2 separate regions of the Homo sapiens genome follow, and region 1 is linked to region 2. The links come from fine-mapping of genetic effects on gene expression. A gene starts in region 2. The other region holds a variant in brackets. All regions are shown on one strand. Distances are from middle to middle.

What was found.
Region 1: its variant is fine-mapped to the expression of GCOM1 in blood mononuclear cells (TOPMed, PIP above 0.99).

Annotation. Positions count from the first base shown.
Region 1 is chr15:57,563,121-57,568,502 of GRCh38, forward strand. No RefSeq gene overlaps it. Among named protein-coding and RNA genes, the nearest start is that of GCOM1, 26 kb to the right of the region's middle. The variant C/T (reference allele first, on the strand shown) is at 2,330.
Region 2 is chr15:57,589,164-57,594,545 of GRCh38, forward strand. It overlaps GCOM1 (GCOM1, MYZAP-POLR2M combined locus), which reads left to right and starts at 2,741. Exons shown (of 17, transcript NR_104371.3): 1 at 2,741-2,946. It overlaps MYZAP (myocardial zonula adherens protein), which reads left to right and starts at 2,741. Exons shown (of 13, transcript NM_001018100.5): 1 at 2,741-2,946. The coding sequence starts at 2,872. RefSeq lists a silencer at 2,630-2,739.

The sequences.
Region 1 (5,382 bases), 26 kb before region 2:
CTTTATAAATGCAAGGCAAGACTAGATTATGTTAGCGGATTTGTCAATATTCATTTGGTTCAGTCTTATTGCACAGATAGGCAATTAAAGCATTTTAAATGGGCTGTGCTTAAGTGTGGTCCCCCTCTCATGTACTCCTATAGCAGGCTTTAAAACACTGCATTGCGCTTAAAGATCTGCTTCTTGGATTTGGGCTGTTGAGCTCTTTTCCTTCTTCCACATCATTCCCTCAACTTCTCAAGAAGTTGTCAACTTGAGATGCTGACACATTCTGCAAGTGCACAGGGACACAGCCCTAAGAGTGATCAGCTACCCCCAGTGCCCATCAGTGGTTCAGTGAAGGACGGCATCCCTGCTTAGAATTTGACCATTCAGTCTGCCGGTTACCAAAACCATGTTCATGCTTTAGTGTAAAGGTTTAGCATCAAGGTTACGTCCCAGGTGATGCTTCAAATCCAAACTTCCCCCTTCCCTGGGCTCCTGTGGTCTTTTGTTCTCTTGCAGCGCTTCCGGACTGTGGTTAGCTGATTATAGTTATTTTTTCCTACATCATTAGGTGGTGAGCTTCTCCGGGACAAAGTCTGTCTCATTATTCATCTTTGTTTGTAGCAGGTGCCTGACAAATACTGATAGAATTAAAATAACTTTTGTTTGTCTCACATTTTGATAAATGAACAGGGCTATATTTACCTGAACGTTTATGATTTCATACATGGACAGCATATTTCCTCTTGGGCTTTTCTCTTCCTAGACTGGATAGATTTAATGATTTTAGTTTTATGTCACAGGACAACCCTCCACCTGGAAGAACTGAAGTTCTATTAAGTTTAGGGGTTTCTGGCTAATTTGTAAATTGTTGAGAAAGAATCCACCTTGTTCTGGTCAAAAGGTGACAAATATAGTTAACTTCAACAAAGGGCAGAGAGTCAGCTATTGTTTCTGCCAATGATTACTTTTGTTATATGCTTGAGATCAGATACTAGTCATTTGTATCCCAGTTAACTTAATATAGATAGCATTTTCTAATATTTTCAAGCGTTACTCTAATGCTTTTTGACGCCTATTTTGAACATCAATCTTTTAAACTCATTATATATTATTCTATAATTTATAGAAAAATCATCACACTTTACCTAATTCTTGTTTGTTTGTTTGTTTGTTTTGAGACAGAGTCTCGCTCTGTCACCCAGGCTGGAGTGCAATGGCGCGATCTCGGATCACTGCAAGCTCCGCCTCCGGGGTTCATGCCATTCTCCTGCCTCAGCCTCCCGAGTATCTGGGAATACAGGTGCCCGCCACCACGCCCAGCTAATTTTTTTGTATTTTTCGTAGAGACGGGGTTTCACCGTGTTAGCCAGGATGGTCTCGATCTCTTGACCTCCTGATCCGCCTGCCTCGGCCTCCCAAAGTGCTGGGATTACAGGCGTGAGCCACCGCGCCTGGCACTTTACCTAATTCTTATAGGCAATATTTTCTTTGGTACTTGGGACTTTTTTTAAAGAATAGTATCCTCAAATTGGAATTAGTGTGTCAAATAATATGAATGCTTTTCTGATTCAATTGGATTTTTAATTTTTATACTTACTCAAATAATTTATACTGACTGTTGAAAAATAGATAAGCAATTAATAATAAAGAAAGTCCCCCTTGCTTTCACTATTTAGAAATAACTACTATAAATATTTTTATGTATATTTGTGTACACTTTTTTCTTTACATGGATGTTTATTTCACAAAATGTGGAATCTTACTGTTTATGCTATTACATAGCTTATTTTTTTAAATTATTGTGAATTTTTTCAGCTATAAAAAGATATTTTCTCAAAAATTTTTTTCAAAAGAATATATTTTTTCAACACAGTTTTAATAATTGCACTGTATTCCATGGAATAATAATACTAATAGTTAACATTTGTTTTGTAATTTTTATATGCTATGCAATATTCTATTTGTTTTATATACCTAAGCTCATTTAATCATCACAATAACCCTGTGAGATAGGTACTATTACTCTATTTTAGCAAAAAAAATTATGCATAGAAATATTAAATGACTTGCCTAGTTATGGGCATACCATAAATGTGCATGACCCAGTAGGTCATTGTAGAACATTTTAGTTATTTATTTTTTGTTTGCCATCATAAGAAATGTTGCTATTAATTCATGAAACAAATATTCACTGAGCTCCCACTCTATGCTGGGTGTTTTGCTAGAAGCTTCGTATGTAAGGGAAAAACTGTTGCAGAAAGTAGGCTTGGCTGGGAAAGAGACCTATTTGAAAGGATCCTGGCATGAGATGGCGTTTTCTCTCTTCTGTTTGCTCACATCG[C/T]GGAGGGGAACTCCATACTGCAACAGCAGCCCCTGGCTGGATGTGGTTTTGTCTCTTTCGTCAGCAGGGATATCTCCCGCCCCACTTCCTTGCTCTCTCAGGAAGGCCCCCTCGTGCTCCGCACACCTGCCAGGGTGGGGCTTGTGGAGTTGACCTTCTTCCTTCCTGAATCAGACAACCAAACCAGAGGTGTAACTTCGGTGGCTGGTCCTGTACCTCTGATTCTGTTCTGTGTTCTAAGCAGAGTTTTCACGAACAATGAAAACGCCTGGGAGTGTTCATTGCCAGTTATTAAAGAAAAATGGAATTGGCTACTGTACGGTGTAATAGTCCCCAGGTTATTCCACCCTTTCTGGCAGACTATTTACTCATGTACTTTTAGTATACTGAGGGAAGGCTAAGAGATCTCTGGCCAGTGGGTAGGAAAGAATAAAAAGTCTTTGAGTTTTCAGGTATTTTCTTTTAGTAGTAGCTTCCAGCAAGGCACAGTGGCTCACGCCTGTAATCCGAGCACTTTAGGAGGTCTAGGCATGTGGATCACTTGAGGGCAGAGTTTGAGACCAGCCTGACCAACATGGCAAAACCCTGTTTCTTCTAAAAATACAAAAATTAGCCAGGCATGGTGGCACGCACCTGTAATCCCAGCTACTCAGGAGGCTGAGGCAGGAGAATTGTTTGAACCCGGGAGGCAGAGGTTGCAGTGAGCTGAGATCATGCCACTGCACTCCAGGCTGGTGACAGCAAGACTCCATCTCAACAACAATAAAAAACCTTTATTAACATAATTTACATACCATATTATTCACTCTTTTAAAGTGTAGAATACATGGGCTTTGAATACGTTCACAGAGTTGTGTAACAATCACCACTGTTTAATTTCAGAACATTTTCATTACCCCAAAGAGAAATCCCATACCCACTGTAGCTTCTCATTCTCCCCACCCAAATCCCCCAGCTCCTGGCCACCACTAATCTACTTTCTATCTCTATGAATTTGCCTATTATGGACATTTCATATAAATGGAATCATATGTGGCATTTTATGTCTGACTTCTTTCACTTAGCATAATGTTTTCAAGGTTCATCTATATTGTAGCATGGATCAGCTCTTCATTATTTTTTAAGGCTGAATAGTATTCCATTGTATAAATAGAACACAAACAAAATATAAATTTTGTTTCTTCATCCATCAATTGATGGATATTTGTGTTGTTTCCACATCTTAGCTATTATGAAGAATGCCGCTGTGATCATTTGTGTACAAGTTTTTGTTTGAACATATGTTTTCAATACTCTTAGGTACATTGCAGGCATGGAATTGCTGGGTGATAACGTACCTTGATGTTTAACCTTTTGAGGAACTGTCAAATTGTCTTTCAAAGTGACTATATAACTTTACAATCCCACCTGTCATGTATGAGGGTTTGTTGCATTTTTAATTGCAGTTACCATGAAGTCTGTAAAAGCCAGGCAGTCACAGCCACAGGGCACAATTCCAGAGTGCAGAGGAAGTTTTCCATACAACTCTCACCCTCTTGGCAGGGATACCAGGCCTGCATGTCTCGTGACTGCACATGTTGTTTAGACAATTGTCTCTGTTTGGTGACCCACAGTTTTCGTACTGATATCCGAGTTTTATTGGCATTGCTGACCTATGAGTCTGATGTCTTTGGTGCAGAGCCTCTATCACAGTTTTACCCAGAATCCCATTGCTTTGGACCAATAATAACAACATTCCCTTTGTACAGGTCTTTGCAATTTGCAAAGCACCGTGTTACTTCCCTTTTCTCCAGAGCCTTATGCTCTGCTTTCCAAGGTGTTGGCCTTAGTATAGCAATGTAACCGCTGCTAAGGTGTGTAATGGCCAATAAGATGCTGGCTTTTCCTAAAGAGACTCACTGAGTCCTAATATTTCCCTAGTATAAATGTATCAGTAATGATGAAGATGTCAGGTGCTATGATAGAGCAAAATGGCTTTTGAGGCTCCCTCAAAGCTAGTCTTAGAAGACTCCCCCTCTGTGTGCAGGCCATAAGCTTGGCATCGTTGTAGGAACTTAGTACGGTGTCCAAGCCAGAAGACTTTTCTTTTTGAGACGGAGTCTCGCACTGTCGCCCAGGCTGGAGTGCAGTGGCGCGATCTCAGCTCACTGCAAGCTCCGCCTCCCGGGTTCACGCCATTCTCCTGCCTCAGCCCCACGAGTAGCTGAGACTACAGGCGTCTGCCACCACGCCCAGCTAGTTTTTTTTTTGTATTTTTAGTAGAGACAGGGTTTCACCGCGTTAGCCAGGATGTTCTTGATTTCCTGACCTCGTGATCCGCCCACCTCAGCCTCCCGAAGTGCTGCGATTACAGGCGTGAGCCACCACCCCCGGTCCAAACCAGAAGATTTTTCTACATCTTTCTTCTTATACAAAGATCGTTTGTGAAAAAGCTAAGATTGGTGGCAGGTTTTCAGGAAATTTTCCTTTTTTTTTTTTTTTTTTGCTAGTTTGTGTTCCTAAATAGTGAACATGCAATCGCTAAGTTTTTAAAAGAAGCGAAAAATTGATGGTAGGCCCAGCAGTTAGAAGGCCCTGGGGTTACAGTTCTTCCACAGGGCAGTTGCTGTTTATGAGTGTTCTTTCTTATCTGTAAACCCGTTCTCTATGCCTGAGAGAACATTCCTTACAGCCATGACTCCTTAAAAAGGATAGCCTTTGCAAAAGATTCTTGTCAAATGTTTTTCATCATCTATAAATCACACACAACTGTTTCCCCCAACATTAGCATCAATGTGTATGCCAGTTTCCTCTGAAAATGTCAAGCATGACTGCTCCTTAGAGAAACCATGTTTCTACCTCTCTTCCTCACCAAAGTTTATAAATTCCCAAGCATTCTCTGTGTTAACATTTTATTGTGTGTCACCTCACCCTGAAAAAAAAAAAAAGATAACTAGATTCTGTGCGTGAACCCCCTTCAAAACTCAACTCCCAGGAGAGCTGTGTGTTTTCTAAGCCTGAGCAGCTCAGAATCCTGGTTCATGAAGGCTTGTGGTCTAAGGGCTGGTTATTTC
Region 2 (5,382 bases):
AACTGGGATGGGAGAAGGAGGTAAAATTCAGTAACTGATTACAAGAAAATGAAGGGTGCTTATACAGACATCTGGAATTTTCTACACACCTGTGCTTTAGCAGAGAAATTCAGGACTGCTCTTAGGCCTATGTGGCTATTTCTGTGGATAGAAAAGGATGACAGCTAAGACAGTTTTGTCATAGCTCCCGTTCTCTCCAGCCCAAACACTAGCAACCCCTTCATCACCAATGCTCAGAGGGTCTGGAGTAGATGAGTCATGTTGCAAGGGAATGTGGAGAACTTCTACACCAGACCCTTATCCCTGTTCCCCTCCCATTGGCCCTCTTCCCCACTCTCAGTTCTGTAGACTCCAGAGGACTGCTGACTGGGCAGAAGTTCTCAGCTTTTGATTCCTCTTTTGAAAAGAGTCCATCTTTTTTTAAAAATCATCTTCTCTCAGAAATATTAATGGAAACCAGTGACTGTGACTTCATTTTTTACTTTTTCCTCTCCACTCTAGATCCACTTTTCCATTGATTTCAGTCCTACTTGTCTTCCCATTTTCCTTCTTTCCCACTTTCTGGGCTCCCCACTCTCCTCTCTCTTGCAGTTCCTTATGACCTCAGATTCCTAGTGCTGGCCTATTAGGGAGGAGCTGTGGCATAAGCCAGGGCCTGGCATCTGCCTGGACACACCACCCACAGCCCTTGGCGATTGTCAGCCAGCTTTGGGGAAATGGCCTGGCTGGGACAACCCTGGGGCTCTTGTTGCTTCAGCTGCCAAATTGCTTGGAGTCCCTGGCCCACCCTAGGAGCTGGGTTGGCAAGGATCTTAGTTTCTGTTTTTCATGACCATGAGTGAGTTGAAATCTTACTCTGTAATAACATTTCTTCATTCTTTCCACATTTACTTGCACTACCACACGTCAATTACCTGCTCTAGATATTGGACAGGCAGAGATGTAAACAAGATCCAGCTTCTACACAGAGCTCACAAGCTAGTGAGCTGTCTGCTGCTTTTGTAAAGAAATATAACACCGTGTGAATAGGATGTTAACAATATGAAAAAGACTTGGGTAGATTAGAGGGCTTCGTGGAAGTGGAATGGGAAGGAACCTGTCATGAACAATTTTCTTTTTGGAAGGGATAGGTGGATGGGAGGATGCAGAGAGGAGTGTAGCAGAAAAGCAGAAGGACTTGGGTTAGAAGACTAGATGTGTAGTCTCAGCTGTTCACCAATTAACCTAATGTCTCTGGCCTCAGTTTCCTCATTTGCAAAACAGGGGCGATAACTGTAGCCCACCTTGTGGGGCATTGTGAGAATTGGTTGAGAAAATGCATATAAAGCACTTAGGACACAAGCACAGCTACTGTGAGGATGACGATGAGGATGGTGAAGAACAGGCTGTGCAACTTTGGGAAAGTCACTTGTATACACCGGCCTCAGTTTCCTCATCTACAAAAGGAGTGAGTTCCACAGGATCATCTGTAATTCTGTTTAGCAACATTTTTTTTTCAGCATCTTCCCTGTTGGTGCCATTGGGCATTCAGAGAGGGTCAAGGCCTGGCCTCTGCCCTCCAGAAGGACAGGGTACAGGCACACACATAGATAACTCTAACAGAAGACAGGGTCCCGCGGAGCTGCTAAGTTCCTGAGCATGCGTGTTTGGGGAAGGGGTTTCTGGAGAGCTCCGTGGGGAGGCAGTGCTTGACCTGGGCTTTGAAGACAGAGATTGTGTCTTTCCCTGCTGAAAAACACTTTGTCCTCAAGATAAAGGCCAAATTTCCAGCTAAGCACACAGGTTCCTCATGATGTCCTCAGCTCCCTTCCGCTGCTTCTCCACTGTTTTCCCACTGCACTGTGATACTTCCAATTCTTGAAACATATTTTATACCTTCCCTTGCTTTCCTTCCATCTTTGTGCATGCTAGTTCTTTTGACCTGGGACTCCCTCCTCCCTCTGTTAGGGGACAGCAGAGGGGACAAGCAAGGCACTAGGGTCGGACTGGGGGATTCATATCCTACCTTTGCCACTGAGAGGCCAGTGGGTCGCCTGCTGTGTTGCTCAATCCCTAGGTGAGTCAGCGTCTTCATCTGCAAAATGGGGATACAAGGTAACAACAGTGACTCCCTCAAAGGGCAATGGTGAGGATTAAATGAGGTAACACACGCAAAGTGCTCGCCAGGCAGGCCCACAGTAATCATTGAATAAATATGGGCAGTGTGGCCCACTCCTACTTGCATTTCAGGTCTTAGCTTAGTCATCACCTCCTCTGAGGTTGGCTGTGTGCTCCCTTAGTACATGGTATCTCCTCTTCTACCACAGCCCGGCACCTGTCATCCCCACCACACTGCAAACTCTCCGAGGCCAACAGCCAGTCGACTGGGTTGGCTGCTGGTGGGGACGCATAATAGGCATTCAGGAAATACTGAATGAATGACATGGGGTGAGGGTCCCAGTGATACGAGGGCGTGCAGAGGCTGTAGGGGGCAGTCCGGGGTGGGGGTAGGTCGTGAGACTGAATGGGCAGGTGGATCTCAACTCTGCGGGGGACAGAGAGAGCATGGGCGTCCAGGCTGTCCAGGGCTCCTTCTTGCCCTGGGACTGACCCTGGGAGGGCGCAGCGCCCTGGGAGAGGATGGTGCTCAACTTTAACCGGGTCGGCGCCCTCGGGAGAAAATGCAGCCTGACGGGTCGGGTGAGCGCGCTCGGCCCCGCCCCGGCCCGGCCCGGCCCCGCCCCCGGCCCCACCCCCGGGCCTTCGCGGTGCAGCTGAGGCTGCAAGTAGCCGGCGCCGTCCCGCGTCGCCCCCGCGCAGGGCGGGCCCCGCACGCTTATTCTGCCCGGGAGGAACGCCGGCGTCCAGCCCGCTACCGACCGCCGCTGCGGGATGCTGCGCTCCACGTCCACGGTCACCCTGCTCTCGGGCGGCGCCGCCAGGACGCCCGGGGCGCCCAGCAGGAGGGTGAGTAGCGGGGGCGGGAGCCGCCGCCGTCCCGTTCCCCCATCCCGGCCGCCCCCTCTAGAGGGGACTAGGGATGGGAAAGCTCGGGAGCCAGCACCTGGCCCCGACGCCCCACCCTGGGCTCAACTCCCCGGTCCTGTGCCGGCTCTGGCAGTGACCCTCCCGCTTGAGGTTTCAGGGGGCCCACCAGCTGGTAGGAGAGGGCTTAGGGGACTTTATGGAATTCCCAGAGATTTCCTCTCCTTCCTGCCTTTCTGTCAAGCCGAGTTTATTGGCGGCACCAGTTTAAAAATGAAGGAAGACATTTGTGCAGTGTCCCTACCTTGAGACTCAAAAGTAATGAATGTATTTAAAACTCAAACTTTCCTTCTTCCATTAATTAAAAGAAAGATGGGGTCACTTGTGTCCACTAGTGATAGGGTATCCACTAGTGATAGGGTAATTCTGGAGTGGGGTTAGCCAAGGTGGGCAAACCAGAACAGCAGCCGGCCGCCCAGGAGCCCGACTGTGTGGGACTCCGGTTTATGTAAACCACTTTCTTCTGTCTGATTTAAATATTAGCACAGTGACAACAATGGCAGCACTGAAAGCTTGGGACAGCATCTCCAGGGAAGGTTTCCCTTTGGAAGTGCTGTTTCTTTTTGATCTTTGTGGCATCTTTTCCCATCTCTCCAGATGCTCTGTAAAAGAAATGCTCCATCTTTCTAACACGGTCAGCACCTTAGAGCCACAGCCAGGGGCTTGGCTTGTGGCTTTTTAGTTCTTCCATTTATCATGATGTTCAATACTTATCATTTGGTACCTCTTTGCTCTGATTGAGACTTCTGTAATCGTGTTTCCTCAAGATTTAAACAGGTGGTTAAGTCCAAAGCAAAACCCCCACTGGTTCTGTCTGCGTGCAGGCTTGGACCTGCTTATTTGCTTTTACATGCCTTAAGCGAGTGATGGTGGTCACCTTATAAGCTGTCTTTCTTAGCTCTAGAAGAAAGGTGTGTTACTCTTGGGCATGGGCCAACTGATGGATTCTGGGGTGTGTGTGTGCGTGCACTCACCAGACACTTAGGTTGTGTACACAGGCGCACACACACACACACACACACACACACCCCAGAATCCATCAGTTGGCTCATGCCCAAGGTTGACAGAACTCCAGTTGTCCAATCATTAGCATCATAGAGTAAGATCTACATTGGGTCCAAGGGGGTTTCCAACCACAGTCCTGGCCTTACTCTAAGTTGGGTGTTTGTATTTTTCTATGGAAATCTTTCTCAATTTGAACACAATTGCAACTGAGAAAGAATGAAGTCACTGAAAAGCTAACCCTGAGCCCTGAGAGGATCATATGTGTGACCAGACTGCATGAATTGCATGAAATTCTCTGTAACTTCCCTTCCAGAGGTGGGGATTAGTTGGGGTACCTAACCTAATACGGTGGGTTGATACAAATGTGACTAGTATACAAATAACATTTCTGAAGATTTTGGGTCAAACGTTTCCTTTGGAATATTTATTTAATTATAGGTGCTTTGCTGTCGGACACATTGTGACACTCTTGAAAAGACTTTGCCTTTTGAATAAGATGGCAGACGTATTTTGGACTGGAGAACTCAGGGCTCGGGATCAGGCCATTCAGGGCTGTCCTGGGTACACTGGTACTTGTTTCTGGAAGGAAGGTATCTAAAGGGTCTAGGGTTCTGCCCATCTTTATGGTTTCTAGCTCTGCTCATGATTTGCAGATGTTACAAGTACTATCTGTGTGTGTGCTGGGGATTGTGTGTGTGGTGGGAAGCTGTGAGATGTTGATTAATTGATTTATTGAACATTCATAAACCTTTCTCTGTGTGGTAAAGGGCTGGCATTGGGGTCCGCCCTACCTGTAGAGGCAGACATTTTCCCAAACTAACATCAAACAAAGTGGTGATGGTTATAGTGGGGTGAAGAGTTTACAAAGTTCTGTAGAAGCTAAAATAAAGGTTCTTCCTGAGGCATCAGGGGAAGGCCTCTCACTAAAGGTATGTTTTTTTGAGATGGAGTCTCACTTTGTCATCCAGGCTGGAGTGCCATGGCACGATCTCGGCTCACTGCAGCCTCCACCTCCCAGGTTCAAGCAGTCCTCCTGCCTCAGCCTTCCGAGTAGCTGGGACTACAGGCGCACACCACCATGCTTGGCTAATTTTTGTATTTTTAGTGGAGACAGGGTTTTGTCATCTTGGCCAGCCTGGTCTTGAACTCCTGACCTCAAGTGATACAACTGCCTCGGCCTCCCAAAGTGCTGGGATTATAGGCATGAGCCACCCAGCCCCGCCTACTGGTGATGTTTGAGTTTAATCTTGCAGGATGAGTAGAATTTGTAGGGGAATTGACATTATTGGGATACTGAAAGGAGGAAATAACCATCTCAATGGAATACTTGGCATATATAATCATGTACTGCAT